Homo sapiens: one gene and its partner. The protein of the gene in region 2 interacts with the protein of the main gene of each other region in a pairwise test. Each region holds a gene or a part of one and is shown on either strand. Other genes may lie near its edges.

Region 1 (12,364 bases), on a different chromosome or scaffold from region 2:
CTGTAAAGGCCCAGACAGCAAACGTTTTAGGCCCTGTGGGTCATGCAGTCTTTGCTGCCACCACTCAACTTTGCCAAGACAGTGCAAAACAACCATAAGCAACGTGCAGACGCATGGGCATGGCTGTGTAATAAAACCTTATGTACAAAAACAGGTGGTGGGCCAGATTCAGCCCATGGGCCATAGTTTGCCAACCCTGACTCAGACCAATGTGGTGATTGCAAGAGCAGATTCTAGAACCTGAATTCCTGGGTTTGAATCCCAGCTCCGACATTTTCTAGTTGTGTGAATTTAGGCAGGTGTCTTAACTTCTCTGCGCCTCAGTTTTCTGTCAAACATAGGTGAATACATAAAATTAACTGCTAATATTTTTTAACAGTTAACAAAGATTAAATGAGCTCATACACATAAAGTGCTTTGACACACAGTAAGCATTCAATAAGTGTTGACCATTACTACTGTTTGCAGAGGAGCACCTTGTTTGAGTTTATCAAAGACTAGAACTCCCTAGTAATACGGCTGAAGAAACGTGTTCTGGTTCAAATGTCCAATGCTAATGCTAAGGGATCCCTCCCAGGGTATCAACACCAGGACAAAGGCCCACCATGTGAGCCAGGTGGCAACCCTGCCGTGTACCTGTGCCGTCCGGGGTAGCACACACGTAGGTGGGCAGCATCTTGACGGGGGCACTGGCATGAGTCTCCTTGCTCAGACCTCGCTCCATTTCTACCTTCATCCTCCTCTTGACCTCCAGCAGCTGGTCATGGCTCAGCTGCAGATGCTCTAATGTCTTCTGGCGGGCACGGTGTTGATCGGCCAGCCGGTAAGCCACTGCTGTCACCATGGCTGCACCTTTGCCACTGCCATCCTCGGAGCGGAGGAAGCGGACATCGCAGCCGGGCACCAGCCGCCGCACGGTCTTATGTAGACGCTTGGCAAAACTGCAGTTCCCCAGGGCGGGTAAGAGACAGGTGTCCATGGTTAGGGTCAATGGTGCAAATAGTTAGACAGTTGCCCACCGCCTTAATCCAAATGCCAAAAGGCACCTGCAGGAGTGGGTGCTGCCCTAAACATCCTCTCTCCACTGTCCCAAGTTAGGAACCACTACAAGAACCATATCAACTATGACCACCCAGGATTGGTTCACCCCCGCCAATGAAAGGAAAAGACCTTTTAATAAGCCACTGTCCCCTACATGCAGCCACACAAGACCTCCTCTTCCTCACTGAAGAAGGCCCCCTGGCCACTGCTCCCTTGCCCAACATGGTACCATCAGCCTCTTTGCTGGAGCAGCCCTGTGGTATTAGGTGGTTCTGATGCCACCTATCTGTCTTGTTCTATCACTCATTTCACTAGCTGCTGTCTGGGAAAGACCCAAAATTAAAAGCTAGAGATGCTCTTCTGGACTTTAGCCTCTCTTTTGCCAGTTTCTGCCAATGATCCCAAAGGTGTCTGCACAGCTAAAGACAACGTGTTCAGCCAGGAACTCTCTGGGTAGTGGCCACTTGGAGCCATGGTCTCCAGGGCCTTCCTACTCCAAGTGCAGGAGTAGGCTGCAGCCTACTGGGGGCTGTTAGAGATGCGGGATCTCAGACTCACCCCAGACCTTCTGATCAGAATCTGCCTCTTAGCAAGATCCCCATGTGATTCACGTGCACACTCGAGTTTTTGCAACACTGGGTAGGAAGAGGGAATCTCAGGGCTGAGGCCTCCTGCACCGACAAGTTAAGAAAACAAAGGCACATTGACCTGGCATTCTTATTAGGTGAAAATGATGGGGAAATAAGTAGGCACAATAAAGAGACATCTTCCAGGTCTCAGCTGACATGTGAATATTCTGGTACCTATGACCTGAGGGATCAAAATGTGGACAGGGCAGGATCAATTTAATACCAAGGTCAGCCAGAGAAGCTGGTAACCCTCACTGGGCTGGGGTGGTCCCTGGCAGAGGACATAGCACCTGCAGGAATCACCAAGAATTCTAAGAGTAAAGACAGGAACAATAACGCATACAAGAGGGTGGCAAAGAGAGTGTCCAGCAGCCAGAGGAGCTCTGCGGAGAGCCCGAGTCATCAGTAGCCTTCAGAAATCACCTCCACCCACACCAGATATGACTTCCTCCCATTCCCCCTTGCCCAGGTGGGAACTTTCATTCCACCAAGACCCTCAGCTCTATGGTCCCTCCACACCACCCCTGAAATGCAAAATGGAGCTGGCATGAGGAGTCACTCAGCCCCAGGTACTCCAGGAACTCCGCATCTCCAGGCCCTGCACACTGACTCACTGGGGGTGTTTCTTGTAGACGGAACCGTCGACCCCAATAGTAGAGCGCAGCCGCTCCTCGCCTTTGTTCTCCTTGATGCGCTGCAGCACGGCGGCCAGGGTGGCTGCGCACAGGCTGGCGGAGCGTGTGGACACGATCTGGCAGATCCGGTGAGTGGCCACGCAGTCCTCCTGAGTCGGGTCCAGGCCCAACCGCATCAGGACCTCACGGGCCTTCCGGATGCCATCCTTCTCCCTGGGAAACAGAAAGATAGCATGTGGGCCTGTGTCTGACCCACTGTGGCCAGTGTGTGTGTCGGGGGGTGGCAAGGAAGCCCTTTAGTTCCAGCAAATTCACCACCCAGTGGGGACAGAATCCCTCTTCATTGCTTAGTCCACCTGTGCAGGGGCAGGAGGAGGAGGAAGGGGGTGCAAAATATAGCACAGCCACCCTGAGGCTCCTCTCCCAGACACCACACACACACGCACACGCATGTGCGTGCGCACACACACACACACACACACACACAGAGACACACGGAGTTGAGAAACACAAGTATTTCTTATGCATGTGCTATGTAAAAACAAGGCCCTGTTCTTGGTGCTTTACCACCAAGTTGTGTGTGTGAGAGTTTGTGTTACATCTGCTTGTGTTAGGGGAGACAGACAGTGTCTCTGCTGTCAGCCACTCTCAACATGTGAACCCTGCGGTGATGCCCACCTGGTTTCTCTCTCTAAAGCAGTAGGAGTCTATTGCATTTCACCATGGACTTGGCACTGCTTTAGCTTGTGTCTAAAGATGGTTGGTAAGGGGCTAGTGCTATAACCTTAGCACCCTTCTCAAGGGAACTAAATCTTGCATCACCTTGGGGTACTTGCATCACCTTGGGGTATAGCAACAAGTAGGCCCCATTCCTTCAAGAGTTTCCCCTTAAAACAAAGTCATTGGCACTGTTCCACTGCTCCATTTGGCTCCAAAGACACCTCCTCTCCACCATCTGGTCCCTGAAACACCAGGACTTCTTCAATCTACAAGTGGAAATCTCAAGAACAGTAAACGAGGCCCGCCTGACTCTTGGGATATTGTTAACAACAACAAAAATCAAGCCATCCTCACTCTTGCCCCTGCTGGGCTGTGAAAATGCAGGCCCCAGCTCTGCTTATTAGAATTAATTGGGTAGCTATATCTCTGGCCAATTCAAAGACCTAGCTTTCTATTATGAAGCAGGGGTCATGACAGAGTCCTTTTTGAGAATTGCCAATAGGGAATCAGATGTCAGAGCTTCAGGAGAAGGAAAAGGAGGCAGATGCAGCTAAGTCTTTCGGGGGCCCTCTGGGGTCCTCCAGCTTTAAACCCAGTGCAACAGCCCAAGTCCCTGCATATGGAGGCCAACCACCGTTCCCAGTACCATGAGTCACTGGTAGCAATCACAATCGAAATCGACAAGAGTGGAGACTGGTAAGTGAAGTGAAGCCACAGGCCCGCCATGGTCCACGTCATGTGAGACCCTCTTGCAGTCTATACTTGAAGAGTCAAAAGGTACAGCCCCCTCCTCATTCCCCAACTACCCGTCAACTCGTGTGGTGATCCAGCAAATAGAGGGGGCTGGCCAGAAGCTCACCCTTCAATGTCTGAGATGTCTTTGGTCTCAAAGCGACCGGTGTTGAGAAGCTCTGGGCTGAGCTTCCCCCCAAAGAGCAGCTCCTCCTTGGCCATCTTCACCAGGATAAGCCTCACCAGCTCCCCCATGTACATCCCACTGATCATCTTCTCAAACCTGCCGGAAGACACAAACCAAAAACATAAAGTCCCCACTGCCCATGTACTCATAGCTTCCCTGTTGAAGCAAGATGCGCACACGTGCAACTTCACAACTAAGGGTTAATGTGTGCAGCACGGCCCAGGAGTAAGATACGTGGAGAGGTGACGGCTCAGAGGGGCTGGCTTGGGTTGTCCCTGCAGGCTGATGGGCCTTGACCTATGGAGAAGAATAAATGAAACTTAAGCAGCCAAATGAAACACACAGGGAGTATGGAACATTCTGGAACAGCCTGTATTTTAGGTAAAGTTATGCGTAGGGTGGTAATCTTTAAAATTCTTCTCTAGCCAGGAAATCATTTTTAAAATTAATATCTTACATAGCCCAATATTTATTTACAAGAGAAAAAAGGCGATCTGATTAGATATGTAGCACAGGCCTAGAAACTCATCAGCTCATACTGTCCACCCCTGCAAGCCGTTCATGGGCTCCAGAGAAAATGGTGTGAAAACCACCTGGGGCAGGGGATGATGGGGCAACATTATAAAGGCAGGTTGGGATAGAGGAATCTGCACTGGGCTCCGAGCTCTAAATGACAGGTCTCAGGGGTCTGGGAGTGAAACAGGCTTCTAAGCAGGCAGGTGACAAGATGTTTTAGAAAGGCAGGGGACGGCCCCCAAACCAGCAGTGCGGTCCGGTGATTTAATTTTAACACTAGGTGGCACTGTTTTCTTTCATAATTGGTCTTTCTGACTAGAACTGAGAGGAAACCAAGCCCTGGTGATAATTCTTTTTGACAAAAGGCCCATTTCTGGGTGTTTGAGAAAGAACCTGTGTCTTAGAGGAGGCACATGGGCCTGCTGCCACTAACTAGGATGAGCCCCAGCGAGGAGGAGGCCCAGGACTGAGATGTGGAAGGGATTCCAAGGTTACCTTTCCGAGAGGAAACCCAGGCCTCCAGGAAGCAGCCTGCTCAAGACCCAAGGCCGAGTACAGCAGCATCAGGGCTAACTGAGAGCTGGCAAAATTGTGAAGATGACAGCGCGCATTTTAAATGTTAGTGCACCCACACAGGCAGAGCTTCAGGAGAAGGAAACCAGCGTGGATGGGAGCCTGGCTTCAACAGTAAGGAACTCCGTGTTGCTAAGTTTTTATTCTAGTTTTTAAAAACACTTTGTTCCAGTCAACATTTGGAAGATACTTACTTGGAAATATATTAGAGGGGACAAAAATTGTCTGTAGTGACTTCAGGGCTACCATGGATGACAATTTGGTGGGTGTCAAAGGATAAGCCGGGGGTGTGCTGTCATGGTCTGGCTGGCAAATTTGTCTTTTGACATTTGAAAGGGCCTTTAGTTCCTCGGAATGACTTGGGTGTGCCTCATTCATGGAGGCAGGCACTGAGTGACTTTTCAGCTCATAAACCTCTCATCAGCCATGGCAGACACAACCAGTATGATCCTCAGAAATTTCAAGTAAAGGACTCATTTCAACATGTGAAACAAGCTTGTGACTTAGATAAATAAACCATGCTTTGACAAAGCAAGGACTCTCAGGCCGGGCGCGGTGGCTCACGCCTGTAATCCCAGCACTTTGGGAGGCCGAGGAGGGCGGACCGCCTGAGGTCGGGAGTTCGAGACCAGTCTGGCCAGCATGGTGAAACCCTGTCTCTAATAAAAATACAAAAATTAGCTGGGCGTGGTGGCAGGCGCCTGTAATCCCAGCTACTCAGGAAGCTGAGGTAGGAGAATCGCTTGAACCCGGGAGGCAGAGATTGCGGTGAGCCAAGATTGCGCCATTGCACACCAGCCTGGGCAACAGAGAGAGACTCTGTCTCAAAAAAAAAAAAAAAAAAACGAAAGCAAGGACTCTCCTGGGTTACCCACCACTGACTTGATTTATAGGGTTCAATTTTCCTGTCCAAGTAGAGATCTGCACGAAAAGCTTTTCTACAACAGTCACAAGACCAGAGATGATCTGTATTGCTCAAAATATTTTGCAACTGCTTCAGACCTTGAAGCAATCCCTGTTTCAAGATCTTTCACACGCACATTTGGCAAATGTTTGTGAGGGTGAAATAAGGTTTTGTAAGAGATAAAAGCAACTAAAAACAAAGGCAGGCCAGGCTGGAGAATACAATATTCAGGATCCAAAATGCTAGACGCCCCTCCTCCAATCCATCCCAGGACATAGTTGGGCCAAGGTCCAAGTGAAGGAGGCCAAGGAAGCTCCTCAGCCAATGTCTCCAGGGGCCATGGGTCTGCCTGCAGCTGCAGCAGGAGGCCCTGGGACCCCAGGGAGCAGCAATGAGCAGCCAGCTGTCAGCCTGTCCTCTGGGTGGTGATGGAGTTGGAGCTATGAAAGGAGCTTTCAGAGACCCCAATCTTGGCCACCTCAACACAACTTTCCTTAGGTGGCTCACAGTTCCCATGGACAATTTACAAATAGAAGGTGGAAAGAAAGAGCAGGGCCACCCACTTACACTCAGAATAGAACCTTCCAAAATGACTCCTGTGAAGGAAACACATTATTAGCTATAATCTGGTATATCCGCTTGCTCTCTGTTTTAGATCCTCTCAGCAATTTATAGTCACAGACATTCCTATGACCAGTGGCCACCTTGGCAAGCTTTGGGGATGTAAGACTGTAAAGAAACAACCCCCTGGCCCCGACCAGCCCCAGACTCAGCTCCAGGCCCCCGCCAAGCCCACTCGCACAGGAAGGGCCTACTCACAGTTGCTTTCCCGGGTTCAGTGAGCCCATGTCAATCTCCTGGTCAAACTCAGTGCGAATGTCGTTGAGCGAGCCATCGTCCCCGAAGGCCCCCCACTCCATATTGATACACATCCGCCCCTCATCGCCTTCCACCATGTCGATGTGGCGCATCTCTTCCATGTAGCAGGCGTTGCTGCCCGTGCCTGCCAAAACAAGGGACGGCTATGCACACGCCTGCTCCGGCCCCTTCCCACCCCTCTTCCCTCTTATACTACTGTCCCGAGACTGCCCGGCCAGGATGGCTGGGATTTCTCACTGCAGACTCTGGGGGCATCACAATACATGGTCTAATCTTCTGCCACCCCCAACTCCATGAGTCCCTGCTCGGCTCTCCAAAGTGACTGGACCATTATCTTCTAATATGAACTACAAAGGAACACCCAGCCCATGGGCCCCTTCTCCCTTTCCAGCCCACACCCCCATCCCTTGGCCAGCACGGGCCCTTCATGCACGGTGTTCACTCACCCACAATGAGACCAATCTCACAGTTGTGGTCATCATAACCACAGGTCATCATGGTCCCAACTGTGTCATTCACCACAGCCACAATGTCGATATCAAAGTCCTGTGGAGACAAATGGGAGGGCTCTGACCTTCATCATCACAGAGGGCGACTTTCCTAACACCAGCTATATATCACTCCTCCTCCTCCTCCTCCTCCTTCTCTCTCTCTCCCCCCTCCCTCCCCATAACTCCTCCTGTGATAAGACTTTTAATTCATTCTCTCTCTGAGCCATTCCACTCCCATGTCAACATCATTCCAACTTTCTTACTTGGAAATCACATTCAAGTCTTCTTCAGGTTAAGAACTAAAGAGCTTTTCTTGTGCCAAGGCTAAGATTATTTATCCATTTGATAATCTAAAAACCCCCAAAGCAGCAGATCGCATACAAAATTATTGAGTACATGTGTCAGGGAAAAGAGAACTCTCCTTAAGCTCCACGTAAGCAAACAATGATGAGTCAAGGACACTCAGGGAGTCTTCAGGGTGGACCCAGAAAAGCCCACAGACCCCAAGCTCCTGCCACCCCACTCACCCCTCTCCTCTGGATGGCCTTCCGGATCAGAGCCACAACGTCTCTGCCTTCCACTCCACTGGACTTGAATCCCTTGGTCCATGAGACCAGGAAACTCTGGAAAGGGACCAAGAAGTGAATATTGATTTCCCACTAAAACTGAAACTCACACCACACCCCTCAAACCTCCGTCATTAGCAGAGACCTCTGCCACTGGGGTAAAGTCATGATTGAATTTGTGTGTTACTTCCTGGCTAGCCTAGGAAAAAGAAACTCAGGACAACTGGCACTATAAGACACAGTCATGTGCCGCATAACAATGTTTCAGTCAGTGACAGATTGTGTATACTGCGGTGGTAACAAGATTATAATAGAGCTGAAAAGTTCCTATTGCCTAGTTAGATACACAGATATCACTGTGTTACAATTGCCTATAGCATTCAGTACAGTAACATGCTATACAGATTTGTGGCCTAGGAGTTAACAGGCTGTCCCATACAGCCTAGGTGTGTAGTAGTCTATACCATCTAGGTTTGTGTAAGTGCACTCTATGATGTTTATACATAAGTGAAATCACCTAATAAAGCATTTCTCAGAACATATCCCCATTGTTATGCAATACATGACTGTACTTGTGTCCTTACATCATTAACTCTCCAAGTATCTTTCTTCCAAGGGTCTTTATCATAACACTTTAGACTGGGGAGTTCCTGATTTCTCATTCCTGTTTCTGTGGAGGGGATAAGGATACTGTGCAATGTGTGTGGGAGAGAGGGTGATAAAGGGCACTCCCAACCCCCCAGATTTCTTCACCAGCCCCCCCATCGACATACACAGTCACCCAGAAAGGCAGAACTTCATCTCCACAATCCTCCAGTGCTACCACCACCACCACAGCAGGTGGCTCAGAAGTCCCTCTCAGCCCTCCCAGCCCCAAGAGTGAAGCAACAAGTGTCTGAGGAGCCCATCTTACCTCGTCTAGTTTAGTCTGGTGGCAGGGGAACGAGAAGGTAAAACCCAGTGGGAGCTTCTTGTCTTTGATTTGTAGCTTATCCATGAAGTTAGCCAGGCATTCGGCAATGTGGTCAAACAGCTAAGGATACATGACACAGGGTGGTGAGCAGAGAGGTCGAACAGCATAGAGATTAAGGGCATGCACTTCAGGCTCAGCACGTAACTAGCTGAATGTGTGCAAAACCCATATCTCCTCTGATATCTTCATTTGCTCACCTACAAAAAGGGAATTATAACTGGACCTGTCCTCATGGAGTTATGAAAAGGAGTACATGAGTCAATACATAAAGGCTTAACATTAGTTTTTGCCCACTAAATATTGTCCTCTACTTAAGCCATTTTTCTAAACTGCTGTCAAGATAACCCTGTGAGGTAGGGGAAATCATGGCCAACATTAATCAGAAAGTCACTTCATGCCCGGGGAACAGAACATTCTTTGGTGGCCCTGTCAGAAACCCATTGACATGGAAGCCCAGTTGACGATCATACCAAAGGCCAGCCCATCTTGCTGCCAAGAAGTATTTTAGTATCCCTGTCTCTGGTGATGGGGTGGGGGGTGGTTTGCAGGGACAGCATTCTCTGTTGGCATTCTATGAACCAACTTAACAAAAACAAGTAATTTTTATATTTTTTTCTCCATTCTAGAAAACTAATCTCCTGAGGGCAATTCAAAGAAGTTATCTTTGTTTTCTAACTTTCTAAACAGAACATCCAGTAAGTCCATGAAGAGCGCTGAGAAATAAATCACATTTTGTGGGTGAGCAGCCTCACAACCGTGACCGCACGCACTCACTGTGCAGGACCCAGAGCTCCTAAGCCTTAAAAAAGCTGTATTCATAATAAGCCAGGCTTTCAATCAGCCCCAAAGCCCACAATCCCCTGGCGTCCTTCTTGCCCCACCCTACACGCTCAAAGAGAAGCTGCTGACCCTTTAGGTGAAGGCTGAGACTAGAGGCATTCAGGTGTAAAAAGTAAGCAGAGGCCAAAGAGGCTGGGCAGATTCCAAGGGCCAGGTTGACTACGTGGCAAAATCTAAAAGCCAAGGTGGATAAGAGGTCAACTATCCTTTTCCTATCCAGGAAGGTGCAAGAAGATTCGACTAAACCATGGCTTTTCAAAGTGTGCTCCTGGAACAGCAACCTCACTCCCTTAACCTGGGAACATGTTAGAAATGTACATTCTAGGGTCTAGGCCCGCCCCCACAGACCGACTATAGCAGAAACTCTGGGGGTGGGGCCCAGCCATCTGTTAGCAAGCCTTCCGCCCTCCAGGTGATCCTGGAGCAGTAGGTTGAGAACCACTATGCCAAACCACAGAAAGTTCTTACATTTATAAAGGAACTGAGAGGTTGGGAGAGGGAAACTGACAGACCTGTTGGATCTCCTGATGCCTAGGGTATGGTCAGCAGGAGGGACCCAGGAAGACAAGGCCACCCCAATCTGGAAGATGGCCAGATCTAACTAAACTTCCCACATCCATTCTGTCTGTCCCTCTGTCTGATCCCATGCAAAGTTAACAACAGCTGAGGCTGAACCTTCGACCTCCAAACCAAAACATTTTCAAGAGCAAAGGCTGGGGAGGACAAGGCTCTCTTGCCATGGGGATCACCAGTGCAGGTGAGCCAACTCCCTTGAACAGAGTTCAAGTATTTTAACATGAAAATAGGGATATATTCAGCAAATTCTGTTCTGTCGGGAAGGTGACTAGAGATGAATTATATGATACGTATATTAAACAAATTCCCAGCACCTTCTTCCTGGCACTCTAGTCAAAATGATCTTTAGTACAAATAGTTTTTATCCCAAAAAAAAAAAAAAAAAAAAAGGGAGATGCAGAAGTTGTGCAAAGAGATAAGGCCAATCATCAAAGACTGGAGGTGGGGGTTAGAAGGGGGAAAAGCAAAATGGTTTCTCCTCCCCCAGCTCTGATCACTGCTTTCTTTCCAGTTGCGCTCCTAACATAGGAAGGTAGAGAAAAATAGACCGTGAAGAAGCATTAAATACTGCCCTGCCCAATATAGTAGCCACTGGCCATCTGTGGCTATGTCAATTAATTAGAATTTTTAAAACAGGCCGGCGCAGTGGCTCCTGCCTGTAATCCCAGCACTTCGGGAGGCGAAGACGGGCAGATCACTTGAGGTCAGAAGCTCAAAGCCAACATGGTGATTCAAAAAATTAGCTGTCTCTACTAAAAATTCAAAAAATTAGCCGGGCCTGGTGGTGCACACCTGTAGTCCCAGCTACTCGGGAGGCTGAGGAAGGAGAATCGCTTGAACCTGGGGGGCAGAAATTGCAGAGAGCCGGGATGGTGCCACCGCACTCTTGGGTGTCACGCTTGGGTGACAGAGTGAGACTGTCTCAAAAAAAAAAAAAAAAAAGAAAAGAAAAGAAAAAAGACCTTAAAAATTCAGTTCCTCCGTCACACCAGCCACACTTCAAGGGCTCGATGCCACAGGGTCAGTGCCTATCATATTGCACAGGGAAGATAGGAGACAGTTCCATTGCTGCAAGAAGTTCCACTGGCTAGGGCTGGGTTCAAAGAACCTACATCTTTTCTCAAGTGGGAAGAGGAGACCTTCTGCTTCCTTGAATTGGAAGACAATCTCGTTCTCTTTGAGGAGGATCTATGGGTAAGATGCAGAGAAAGAGCTAACACGTTCCTGTCATAAAAAGGCTCAAAGGGCATCATTTTATGAAGTTAAAATGGTTTCCTTTTCCTTACTGGTCTGAAAATCTGCTCACTTCCCTTTCCACGAGATATACGTTTAAAATCTTAAAGTGGCTGCCATTCAGGTTTGCAATCCACTGCTCTTCAGGAGAAGTTAATGTGCCGGAAGACAGACTTTACCGAAGGACCCCCATTGCCCAGGTTCACAATTCTTCAAAAACCTTTGCAAGTTTGGGATTCCAAGATTTGTTCTTAACCAAAGTGTATATTTACAATCCATTTGTTTTCCTTTAAGTAAAATACTGATACCAAGTACCAAAAAAGGGGGAAAATATGGGAAAAATAGCACCAGTAATTCCACCACTAAAATAGCCACAATGAACTTCCTTTCAGCCTTTTTTCCAAGTGTTTTCTGCTGCTTTTAGGTACACAGCAGTCTTCCTATTCCTTAGGATCAAAGATACCTATATTTTCTTCTAGCTTTCTTTCCTTTTCATTTTTAAATAGCATTTTTCACTTACTTAAAATCTTTCTAATATCTCAACAGTTTTAATGCTCTTCAAGGTGGGTCTCATAGTTGTTTTTTTTTTTAATCCGGACTATACTGTTTTTCTTATATATTGCATGGAGAGTAGGTTTTCTTGATACCCTCTAACTAGGTGGTCTGAGCAATTTTAAGCTTTTTTCAAGAAGAACTTCACTCACATCTTGAATGTTTAAAATGGATTTTTTTTCTCAATTGGCAGAGACGCACTTCATTGTCCTTGCCAGGCTCTAGGGATGACGCTGCAGGGACTGCAAGGTGCCTGGCCCCTGCATGTTGTCAGGATACAAGCAACAGGGAGGGTGTTGTTCTTGTAAAACTTAAAA
Region 2 (13,133 bases):
GGAAGTTAAATGGATGGTTTTGCCGGGGACTCACTGCAAACACCTACAACATTCCAAGGAACCAGACCCTTCAGTAGTGCTGGATAGGTGATGGTAATGCCAACCTACACGTGTTGGAGTTTTCAACAATGCTGTGCCATAAGCTCATGAGAAGTTATAGTCTGACAATGATGATAGACTTGAATTCTGGAATCTTGGGCAGTCTGTTCCAGAAATGATACACACTGGTACTTTCATTTCAAAGTATGAAGAAAGATAAACCACATACAGGAACAGCACAAGATTCCTAACAGGTTCTGTTGAACTTAAATTGCTTTAAAGATTTTTTTGCATTATCTGAAGAGGTAAGTCCAATAAAATTATCTAACTCTTCAAAAAGTCATTACATTTAACTATGGTGATAATGAGTCAAATTTAAAAATCACTTCTTTTCCTGAAAGAATCACCAGGTTTTGGTTTTGAGAACTCTGAAGGCAAGAAGCAGGAGGATCCAGACCGGAAAGCATTGAACCAGCCCTCTCACTCCATCTTCCTACACATAAAACAGAACAAAATAAACTATTGTCATAACTCCACACAATTATATTAAGAGACTAAAAAGTAGCCTCAAAAATGGCTGGTGATGTTCAAGTAATCTACAAATACCGGGTTTTAACAAATTAAGTAGGAAACAAAAGACGGTGAGTGGTAAAGTTGCTTTGGTTAAACTCCTACTTCCTCAACTTGCCATGTGACTTTAAGCAAGTTACAAGGCGTCTCTGTCTCAGCTGCCTCATGTGAAAAATGAGGATATCAGTCCTTAACTCACTAAACTGTCAGATTTTAATTACAACAGTGCCTGGCAAATAATCATTTATTAAGACTTATTTTTTAAATGATTCCTATGAGGGCCTCCGGAATCAAACCCTTTTTAAGCAGCAGAAAGGGAATAAAATCCATATTTATATGACTATTGTCTATTAGGAATCTAAATAGGAATCATCTTACTTTTTAGGGGTTGCCTTACCCCAAATATTCTACAACTTCTGAGTTTTCTTTTTTTTCTTTTTGAGACAGGGTCCCACTGTGTCGCTTAGGCTGGGGTGCAGTGGCCCAATCACAGCTCACTACAGCCCTCACTTCCCAGGCTCACATGATCCAAGTGATCTTCCTGCCTCAGCCTCCCTATTAGCTAGGTTCACAGGCATGCACCACCACAGCCAGCTTTTTTTTTTTTTTTTTGTAGAGAGGAGGTTTCACCATGTTGCCCAGGCTGGTCTTGAACTCCTGTGCTCAAGGGATCCACCCACTTCCGCCCCCCAACGTGCTAGGATTACAGGGGTGAACCACCTTGATGGTCTGAGTTTCAATTATAAATATGACACTGGGCTGGCTGGGTCAGGCGTCTAGAAAGTGCACTAACATTGGAAGAAAGGGTGATCAGGCCTCTAGTTCCTGTTCTGCTACCGATTAGCTGTGTGACCTTTAGTAAGTTAAGAATTCTCCCAAGGCATTCTATACAACCGAGAGGGGTGGGAGAAGAGATAGTGAGGAACTAGATTTCTAAGGTAGCCATTAAAATCCTGCTAATCCTAAACAGACAATTTTAGAGGATTCTTAAGATTATCTTTCTTATAAAGGAAGGACAGGCCAGAAAAGATAGCTGTTAAAGTCAATTGACAAAGTTAAATCATATTAATGTCCTTTGTGAGCTCCATGAATGCAGAAATGGTATGTTATTTATCTGTATGATCCAGTCTACTGGCACACATTACCTACTCAAAATGCTGGTGTGCTGAACTATACGTTCGTATTTGGGAATCAACTGCACTTTTATTGGAGCTTTCTTTATAGAAGTTATTTCTCAGATATATTTCTTTCCCTGTTGCATCATACACTTTACCTGTCCCCCATTTAATTCTCGCATTAAAGTAGTGAGATACGCACTATCATTTGCATATCAGGAAACTTAAGTCCAGGCTACCTGGCTCTTAGCTGGAGAACAGACTCCAACCGAGGTCTACCTTGCCTGAAAAATCTGTGCTCTTAGCAGGGCGCGGTGGCTCATGCCTGTAATCCCAACACTTTGCGAGGCCGAGGTAGTCGGATCACTTAAGGTCAGGAGTTCCAGACCTGCCTGACCAACATGGCGAAACCCTGTCTCTACTAAAAATACAAAAATTAGCCGGGCGTGGTGGCGCATGCCTGTAATCCCAGCTACTCGGGAGGCTGAAGCAGGAGAATCGCTTGAACCCCGGAGGCGGGAGGTTGCAGTGAGCAGAGATAGCGCCACTGCACTCCAGCCTGGGTGACAGAGCGAGGCTCCATCTCACAAAAAAAAAAAAATAAAAATAAAAATCTGTGCTCTTAACTACCCTGATTTTCACCTCCCGTTAACACTTGGCAAATACATAAAGACCTATCAGCATGCAGCTCCGTGTAACGTTATGATAATAAAAACATTTATTTGGGATGATACGGTCTGCTGAGATCAGAGCTGTGATCCTCTTTTCTCTCCCAGAACTGTAACCTCTGGGGAAAAGAAAGAAGTCTCATATATGTGCCTGGGGGGCTGACTGCCTGGGGAAACGAGGGGGAACCTCAGAAACTGAGAGGATAGCGGAAGGCAGCCGGCATCAAAAACATCAGCCATGGACGAGCAATTCTGCAAACTCTTTGCAATCTGCTGGGGAGCAAAATCGGTACCCAGACAAGTCTGTGGACATGTCTGGCACCGTTTTTGGTGCAGCCACCAAGTGCCTACGAACCCCGATCCCTTGCTCCTCCGGGCCTCACTTTATCTGAAACACGGAACGAAGCTATCTAAGACCTGCCGTCGTCCCTCGGGGCTGCTGGGGTGAGAGGAGGGGCGACACGGGACGGCCCCAGGGCAAGCGCCCCGGAAAAAGCGCTTCCAAGCCAGCCCTCCCGGGCTGGAGCGAGCAGGGAGGGGAGAGGGTGGTGGACCCGTTTTCCCTTCACCCGCTCCAACACACTCAAGGAAGAGAGAGAGAAAGACATCCTGCCACAGCCATACTCACTGCCGGACAACAGTCAGAGCGAAGCGAGCCATGTTCCCGGAGCCGCGTCCCGTCGGTGGCCCCGCGCCGCGCTGCCCCTGCACTGCGGGCTACCTCCCCCACACCACTTCCGCCAAGCAGCCGGCCGGCTCCGCCGCCATAGGCCGAGGCGGCCTCGCACGTCATCCCCGAAGGCCACTCAGGGCCGGGCGAGGCCGACGGGGCGGGGGAGACGAGGGAGCCACGGGGGCCCCGCCCAGGGCTGCGGCGCTTGCGCCCCTGCGCGCCGGCCTGTGATTGGCGCGCGGCAGGTGCGGGAGGCCCCGCCCGCGGAGTCCGCGGTAGGATTCCTTCCCTCGATAGCCGGCAGCCTGCGTTCGGGGCAGATAAGGAAGCCGGCGCACTGATTTGTGGTTGTTGCGATTGAGGCTGGAATGCAACCGTTCGTCTTATAGCTGGCCACTGTGATGAACCCCTCACGGGTGTACAGCGACCAACAGACTGTGTTCTATGAGGTCTGTTAGTCCCTAACCTTAGGGACGTAGCGTCGGCCAGGTCTGTAGACTTAGACCCACCCACCCCAACTCCGCCGGGACAGACGCCCTCCGTGACCAAACTTTAGTCGGGCTCCTTTGAGGCCTTTTCTATACTAGACGGCATCCTCGGCCTGCTGAGCCTGGTTTTACCAAAGAATCCTGCTAAGCCTGTTTATCAAGAGAGACCTCACTGTTGATGCTCTCTTCTAAGGCCCTTGATATCTAGTAAAGTTCCTCCTCCCCCTCCCCCAGATAGCTTACCACGTTCTGGTAATTTCCCATCTTCTCTTTCATCCCTTCCATCCCGCCCCCTGGCTATAAATCTCCACTGGTCCCGGTTGTATTCTAGAGTCGAATTCAGTCTCTCTCACCTATTGCAGTAGTCTTGAGTAAAGTCTTGCCGTTTTTAACAAGCCTCAGATGAATAATTTCTCTTTAATAGCCTTCAGAACGTTGAGGGAGTTGCTTCATGTTAGATATGAGTTCTAAATTTCTTTTCAAAGAATCAATATGTCAGTATGTTCAATTCTTTGCTTTTTACTTTTAAACTTAACTTCCTCCTAAAGCAACCTTCTCTTTTTTATTTATTTATTTATTTTTTTGAGATGGAGTCTGGCTCTGTCACCCAGGCTGGAGTGCAGTGGTGTGATCTCGGCTCACTGCAAGCTCCGCCTCCCGGGTTCACGCCATTCTGGCTCAGCCTCCCGAGTAGCTGGGACTACAGGCGCCTGCCACCACGCCCGGCTAATTTTTTGTATTTTTAGTAGAGACAGGGTTTCACCGTGTTAGCCAGGATGGTCTCGATCTCCTGACCTCGTGATCCGCCCGCCTCGACCTCCCAAAGTGGTGGGATTACAGGCGTGAGCCACCGCGCCCGGCCACAACCTTTTTCGATTACCTGCTGCACTCTGACTCCTTCCCATTACCTACTCCACCCTGACTCCTTCCCATTACCTACTCCACCCTGACTCCTTCCCATTACCTACGCCACCCTGACTCAGATTACCTGCTCTGTCATAACTGTTTTTCCCGCCAAACCACTCACCCCCATCACTCTCTTTAGATTAGCCAATCGGAATTAGTTTAGCCTGTGCGGTGGGGCACTACACAGCAGCAGGGGCCACGTGCGTCAGGGATAAGAACCCCTTCCCCTCCCTTGTCCAAGTGTGCGCTCACCATTGCTCCATCTGTAAGGACGCACCCTTCTATAGAAGTACCTTGCCTTGCTGAGAATTAAAAAGAAAATTTTATATTCGAGTGCTATTTCTTTTGTGGCACTGAAAGTTTATTTATAACATGAGCTTCTCTAACCCTGGGTTTTGTGACAGGTAAACTGGGATAGCAGTACCTAGCAATGTGACACAAGTAACAATAATGTTAGCTAGGTGACATTGTCTTCCATGCACTGTTACCTAAATTCTTGTATTTCATAATGCATTTATTTCCTTGAATCCCCACTTATATATGAAAAGATGTGTTTAGAGAAGAGATGAATGAGATACTTAGATTCATAGGCACACATTTCAAAACAGTCTTACATGTAATATCACATTTGGCCTTCTGAACAATTCTAAGGTAGACAGGATAGGCTACATTATCTTCACTTTAGAGATGAGAAATATGGCCGGGCATGGTGGCTCACGCCTGTAATCCCAGCACTTTGGGAGGCCAAGGCAGGTCAGGAGAATCTGCAGGTCAGGAGATAGAGACCATTTTGGCTAACACGGTGAAACCCCATCTCTACTAAAAATACAAAAAATTAGCCGGGCATGGTGGCACGTGCCTGTAGTCGCAGCTACTAGGGAGGCTGAGGCAGGAGAATCGTTTGAACCCGGGAGGCAGAGGTTGCAGTGAGCCGAGATTCCAACACTGCACTCCAGCCTGGGTGACAGAGCAAGACCCCATCTCAAAAAAAAAAAAAAAGAAATATGGCCGAGAGAGAGACAGCGATTTGTCTAGGCTCACACAACTGGTCAGCGGTGACACAGAACTAGTTTAGAGGTCCTCAAACCTATCTTTACATTAGAATCGTCTGGAGACCTTTGCCAGGCTACACCCCAGAAAAATCAAATCTGAACTTCTGGGGGAAAGACTCAGGCAGCAGTATCTGTATGCTTTTAATCCCCAGCTGTTTCCAACATACAAGTGGCTGTTCTGAGAGCTAGCAGTTTAAAGCAATGCTTCACAAACTCGAACGTGCACACAAAGCAGTTGGGCATAGTGTTAAAATGTAGATTCTGGAGTTAGTAGATTGGAGTGGGGACCAAATTCAGCATCTCTAACAGCTTGCAGGTCAACAGGAGGCATTTTCAGGATGAGAGTGGAGGGATAATTCAGAGGGCCCTAACAGTGGGGCCCAGATATCGTGTGTGTGTGTGTGTGTGTGTGTGTGTGTGTGTGTGTGTGTGTGTGTGTGTGTCCGTGTCCGTGTTCTGAATGCCCAAATGAATGAATCATCCCAGCAGATTCTCCTGGAAGTTTGAGCTGAAAAAATGAAATTAAGTAGTTATCTGTGAGGGGTGAAGCAGAAAGAAAGCACAGAAAGAAATCATAGGATAGAGTTAGGGCTATGAAGGGGCATGGTGATTGAAGCTGTGAAGAAACAGAAGCCATAAATAATACAAGTGAGAGAACAGAGGAGAGGGTACGAAGAAGCAAAGTCAATGGAAGAAGCAAAGAGACACACAGAGAGACACAGACACAAGTGAGTAATGCAAGGAGTACCCAGTCACTGGTCGCTCAAACTGCCATAGTCCCAGATACCTTGAAAGTTCCGGTTTGTATAGTAAAACCTCTTTCACTTTAAGGTGGTCCAAGTGCATTTCTAACGCCTAAATAAAAACAGCTTCCCATTTTGTCTTATTTAATACACACAGTAACTCTGCAAGGTAGGAGTTATTTCCATTTCACAGATGAAGAATTAAGGCACATACAGGTTAACTAATTTCCCATTTCTTGGGCCAGGCACAGTGGCTCACGCCTGTAATCCCAGCACTTTGGGAGGCCGAGGCGGGCGGATCACTTGAGCTCAGGAGTTGGAGACCAGCCTGGCCAACATGGTGAAACCCCTCCTCCACTAAAACACAAAAAGTAGCCGGGCGTGGTGGTAGGTGCCTGTAATCCCAGCTATTCGGGAGGCTGAGGCAGGGGAATTGCTTGAACCCGGGAGGCAGAGGTTGCAGAGCCAAGATCATGCCACTGCACTCCAGCCTGGGCGACAGAGTGAGACTTCATCTCCAAAAACAAACAAACAAACAAAAACTAATTTCCCATCTCTCAAGATCTCAGAACTGAGTTTGAGACCAGATAAGTATACTCCAGGTTTCAAAACTATAAATCATGAGGGTAACTACTGGCTCTATTTCATTACTTCCTTGGTTCCTAAGAAAATGTTTGGAACACAGTGGAGATTCCATTAAAATCTGTCAAATGAATGAAGAATACCTGTTATGATCAGTTTGTCTAATGAAGCATACATATTTAAAAAAGCTGACATATTGGAGAGGATTATTGTTTTAGGAGAAATTTAGAAAGTTGCAAGGCATCCACCAATGTTATTTCTTTTAATTATCTAAGGAATAAATTAAAAAACAATTCTTCATAAATTTTAAGAATCAGGGGCCAGGCGCGGTGGCTCATGCCTGTAATCCCAGCACTTTGGGAGGCTAAGGCAGGCAGATCACTAGGTCAAGAGATCAAGACCATCCTGGCCAATATGGGCAAACCCCGTCTCTACCAAAAATACAAAAATTAGCTGGGAGTGGTGGTGTGCACCTGTAGTCCCAGCTACTCAGGAGGCTGAGGCAGAAGAATCGCTTGAACCCGGGAGGCAGAGGTTGCAGTGAGCCGAGATCGTGCCACTGCACTTCAGCCTGGCGACAGAGCGAGACCACGGCTACAAAACAAAAAAACAAAAAAAAAAACAGCAACGAAAAACTAATCAGGGGCAAAAACCAGGTTGAAAAATGAGGTGTCTTCAAAATAGTGGACATTGTCCTGCATTATTCACTCAGTGGTTCAGGGATTGCCCTTCCACTTATAAAATGAACAGGGAGTTCACTTAAACTGTATTTCAGATAGAAGCTAGAAACACCCATATATGTATGTATGTGTATATATGTGTGTGTGTGTGTGTGTGTGTATCCATATATATTCAGAGAGAAGCCAGAAATACCCCTATATATATATTTCCAGGTTCTATCTGAATTAGTTTACGTGAACTCCTTGTTCATTTTATAAGCAGGATGTGTGTACATATATGTATATATGTATATACATGTATTTGTGTGTATGTGTGTGTATACGTATATAAATACATATATAAAAAATATGTGTATATATGTTTGTTTTTTTTTTTTGAGACAGGGTTTCACTCCCATTGCCCCAGGCTGGAGTGCAGTGGTGTGCTCTCAGCTCACTACAACCTCTGCCTCCCAGGCTAAAGTGATCCTCCTGCCTCCCGCCTCCCGCCTCCCGGGTTCAAGCAATTCCCCTACCTCAGCCTCCTGAATAGCAATTCCCCTGCCTCAGCCTCCCGAGTAACTGGGACTACAGGCCTGCACCACCATGTCTGGCTAATTTTTGTATTTTTAGTAGAGATAGGGTTTCACCATGTTGGTAAGGCTGTTCTCGAACTCCTAACCTCAAGTGATCTGCTTGCCTCGGCCTCCCAAAGTGCTGGGATTACAGGCATGAACGACCACACCCAGCCATCCACCAATATATTTTGTTGACAGCCTCTCAAATCACATAACGCCTTTTTAAAAAAATGAAAAATGGTGCTTTGTTGAAGCGCATCATATGATGGCATTCTGGATTAGGCCACGTTATGCCGAGGTAACAAATTAACTCTGGAATTTCCATGGCTTCACACACAAGTGTTTGTTTTTCTTTCATGCTATATGTCTGACGTGGATCAGAAAGGGTCTTAAAGCCACATACTCATTCAGGACCTAGGGTTGACAGACATGTTAACTTCAGAAACATAAGAATTCACGATTTTTGAGGCAGGAGATGAGAATAGTTGAGGGTCTTGAACCAGTCCTTAGATGCTTCCTTCATTCATTGTCCAGAGCCACTCACGTGGCCCTACCAAATTGCAGAGGTGATGGGAAACGTGAGGTACACATGAATTGTTGGGGGGTAGACAATCCCATAAACCCTGTGCATGTTGGAGTATTGAGGATTCTGCCCTTGGCTCTCTTCTCTACTCAACTGTGCAGTCAGCTAGATGATCTAATCCAGTGTATAGATCTTAGTTATATCCCCAGCCTGGCCTTTCCCTTGAGCTCCTCATTCGTTTATCTGTTATAGTTGCCTACTCAACATCTACGCTTGGGTCTATAGTTGACATCTCAGGCTAACTTTGTCCACACAGAACCTTCCATTTTTACCCCTAAAAACAGCTGGTCTTCAAGTCTTTCTCATCTCAGTAAATGGTAACACCCTCCACTTGACTGCTCATGAAACCCTTGATTCTTTACCTATCCTAATATTCCCTGTCAAATTCATCATAGATTTCTGTAGGCTCAATAATGCAGTGAGTGCTGGATTTTACTCGTTTTCTTGCTTTTTTTTTTTTTTTTTTTTTTTTTTTTTAAGACAGAGTCTTGCTCCGTCACCCAGGCTGGAGTGCAGTGGCGTGATCTCAGCTCACTGAAACCTCCACCTCCCAGGTTCAAGCGATTCTTCTGCCCCAGGCTCCTGAGTAGCTGGGATTACAGGTACCCGCCACCACGCCCAGCTAATTTTTCTATATTTTTAGTAGAAATGGGGTTTCACCATGTTGGCCAGGCTGGTCTCAAACGCCTGACCTCAGGTGATCTGCCTGCGTCTGCCTCCCAAATCTTGTTTTCAAATAAAGATTAATTACTGTCTTCACCGAAGATGAGCCAAGTGTAAAATGCCTGATCTATTTGGAATGTAGGGTAGGGGAGGAGATTGTGGGTTGGAGCCAGTTCCCCAGGCATTTAAATATTTTCAGCAATGCATTAAGAGTGAAATTAATTACATTGTGACCAAAAGCTGGTTAGCTGGAGTCTGTGAAATTTATATTATTCTTGTTTATCTTTTTTTTATTGAAAGGGTTTTTTTTTTTCCTTAGGGGCTATTCTTGGTAGTAAGACTAAGATAGTTGCAGACTTAAATCTCCAGGACTTCAGAGATTTTCAAGGGTATACATTTTTGAAATTTACAGAGACTTGCTTTGTGGACTAGTCCACAGGCATTTCACAGAAATGTTTCGTGTGTCCTTGTGAAGAATGTGGATTCACTCATTATTGGATACAGAGTTCTATATATACGTCTGAAGCAAGCTTATTTATTGTGTCGTACATATCTTCAATAATAAATAAATGATAAAAGCTATCTATCCAAAACCTTTAAAAAAAGTTTATGGGGTCTATCACCAAATTATGTCCTGAATCCACCACTTCTGGAGTCTCACTGTGTCCCAGGCTGAGCCTTCATCACCTCTCGTCTGGATTACTGTGATAGCCTGTTGGCATAGCTCTGCTGCCTCTACTCTGGTACTCAGCCATTGAAGAGATGTCCCTATTGTGTCACTCCCTTGCTGGAGAATTCTCTATTGAATTCTCATTGCAGTTAGAATGAAGTCCCAACTCCTGCAAGGCCTATGTGGCATGGCCCCTCTTGGCCCTCCAGTTACAATTCTCTCTTCGCTGCCCCTCCTCATCCAGCTCCAGCCGTCAGGGCTTCTCTCTGTTCGTAGACCACGTCATGCTCATTCCTACCTCCGGATCTTTGCATTCTCTGTTCCTTCTGCTCACAGAGCTCTTTCCCAAGATATTTGCATGGCTGCCTCCTTCTCAGCCTTCAGGTATCAACTCAGAAGTCCCACTCTCAAGAGGTCTTCCCTCAAGCAAAGTAGGCTGCCCAGTCACTATCCATCATCCGATTTTATTCTGAAATTATATCATTTATGAACATTTTTGTAGGTTCATTGCTTGTCTTTCTTCAGCAGGATATATATTCCTTGACCGTGGGGACTGGCTTGTTCCCTTCTGTGTCTTCAGCACCTCAAGTAGTACTAGATATATTGTAGGAGCCCAAACAATTCATTAGAATCTATGGTTTTTTTTCTTTTTTTTTTTTTGGTTTGTTTCTTTTTTTTTTTTTTTTTTTTTTTTGAGACGGAGTCTTCTCTGTCACCCAGGCTGGGGTGCAGTGGCGCCATCTCAGCTTACTGCAACCTCCGCCTCCAGGGTTCAAGCAACTCTCCTGCCTCAGCTCCCACATAGCTGGGATTACAGGCATGTGCCACCACGCCCAGCTGATTTTTGTATTTTTAGTAGAGATCGGGTTTCACCATGTTGGCCAGGCTGGTCTCAAACTCCTGACCTAAGGTGATCCTCCTGCCTGGGCCTCCCAAAATGCTGGGATTACAGATGTGAGCCACCGTATCCAGCCCTAGAAATCATGTTCTTACAGAATATTTAATGGTATGATAACATTCCCCTGATAGGAGATTACATGAAAAAAGAGTAGAAAGCCATTCGTTTATGAGCCTGATTTTTAAGAAAAAATACATACATATTTTTAAAAGACAAGAAAAAATGTGTAATTTATGTCAAGAGTTTCTCTAGTTGGTAGTTATCATGTTAAAAATGCTTGTTCTGCTCTATTACTAAAGAATTTATTTCCTGAGACACATGCATACAAATAAGCAAGGTGTCTTTCACAAAGAAAATTATCCAGAGGGTGGGTGATGGAGAACATATAAACTGTTCTATGTGGCTACTCACACATACTAAAGCAAGGCAACTTACTATTTTTACTATGTAATAGAATACAGCTGAGAATTTTTTTTTTAAAAAAAACCTTAGTTGAGGGGTAGTATGTTCCTGGTATTTGTTCTGTTTATTTTTAATTAGGTCACTTTATGATTCTAAGATAAAGCTCTTTAAGACTTACCAGAATAGAGGCAGGGTGCAGTGGCTCATGCCTGTAATCCCGGCACACTTTGGGAGGCCAAGGCGGGCAGATCACTTGAGGTCAGGAGTTTAAGACCAACCTGGCCAACATGGCGAACCCCTGTCTCTACTAAAAATACAAAATTAGCTGTGCATGATAGTCCCAGCTACTTCGGAGGCCGAGGCAGGAGAATTGTTTGAACCTGGAAGGTGGAGGTTACAGTGAGCCAAGATCGTGCCACTGCACTCCAGACTGGGTGACAGAGCAAGACTCTGTCTAAAAATATACGTATATTATTAAGACTTACTAGAATAGAGACAAGAGGATTTTAAGTTTCAGAATAAAAATGGACAGACAAAACTGACATCAGATAGTACAGACTGAGAGTGTTTGGGACCAACTGAGAACTGTGGTTTTTGTGATTACCCAAGTTATTTATAACACCACTACTTTGCTTTTTTCTTCTATTGCTTTGAAGTTGGAAATTGTAGTGGTTTATGCAGACTTAATAAAAGAGAAAGTCTTGGGCTTTTACTGGCAGGGATTTTCTTGCACCACCCACTGTCATAATTGATTACATGCTGTACCCTGATGGAAGAACAGAATTTCTAGGCCAACAGAAAATCACAAATACATGGTAAACCATCTGCTTTGTCCAGCGACTGAGAAATAATAATGTGACCAATGACCCAAGTGCGAAGGGACTCCCAGTCCCCATCAGCTTGATGTCTGAAGGTGGAGGGAGACTTGTTTTGGCAGCTGCTCTGCCAACATCTGACATCTGTCACCAATAGCTCCCCATTATTGCTGGTTCCAAAAAAATTATATCTGCCAGTCAAACAGCTTTCCTACTGATGGACAGTCGAAAGATGCCTTCTCAGCCTGCCGTGCTTCTGGGGAACTCCCCTTTATTTGAATACATGCATCCTCTAATCCCTTTTCATGCCTTGCCTGTTAGCCTGTTACTTAGTGGGGAAGAGAACGCTCCCCAAGCCCAAGTTCATTGCTGTCTGGAAGAAGGGCGGCAGCACCAAGGGGATATTATGAGAGTTGTAAATGCTTTTGTTTCACTGCTGTGCTCTTGATAGTAGTCTCATCAGGATCCACAGAAAACCCATATCCACCTCCACCCCTGACTTTTTGGGAAAATAACATTGCATCTACAATGCCTTCAAAAGCAATGAACACGGTCCTTGGTGTGTTTGCATATGTTCAGACTAGCTGATTCTTGTTAAAGCTTTCTATGTATTAGGCACTTTACATAGACTACCTCATTTAATCCTTCTAATAATCCAGAGAGATTTTATAAAAGAATAGCAGAGACTCAGAGCTTGTAAAGCTAAGTGGCAGCCCTGGGATTCAAAGTCAGATCATCTTATTACCTAAGCCTTTTTCCACCACAGCATCCTGACTCTGTCACAATGATTGTATGTAATACAGAAATGTATGATACAGTCCATAATATTCCAGGCAAGTAGCAAGCACTGGGGGGGACATTGGCTAGAAAGGCCAATCCTCTTGTTCTTGCCAGAGCCCTGACAGAATGCTAAGGAAAAGAGAAGACCGCTAGGCCCTAAAATCCTAGGTGTCCTGGCCCTAATACCTAGGCAGTGCCATATGGAAGCAAATCTTCCATAGTCCCTTCATGATGAGCTTACAGTGACAT

The links.
Region 1: the proteins of TIGAR (region 2) and HK2 interact in binary tests that used the Homo sapiens proteins (3 or more experiments, as listed by UniProt).

The regions. Positions count from the first base shown.
Region 1 is NC_000002.12:74,868,842-74,881,205, reverse strand, and holds part of HK2 (hexokinase-2), read right to left. Parts: intron 8,907-12,364; coding exon 8,787-8,906; intron 7,931-8,786; coding exon 7,835-7,930; intron 7,363-7,834; coding exon 7,263-7,362; intron 6,941-7,262; coding exon 6,757-6,940; intron 4,041-6,756; coding exon 3,885-4,040; intron 2,519-3,884; coding exon 2,285-2,518; intron 942-2,284; coding exon 637-941; intron 1-636. UniProt on the Homo sapiens protein: Catalyzes the phosphorylation of hexose, such as D-glucose and D-fructose, to hexose 6-phosphate (D-glucose 6-phosphate and D-fructose 6-phosphate, respectively).
Region 2 is NC_000012.12:4,311,191-4,324,323, reverse strand, and holds the start of TIGAR (fructose-2,6-bisphosphatase TIGAR), read right to left. Parts: upstream 3,112-13,133; 5' UTR 3,053-3,111; coding exon 3,021-3,052; intron 1-3,020.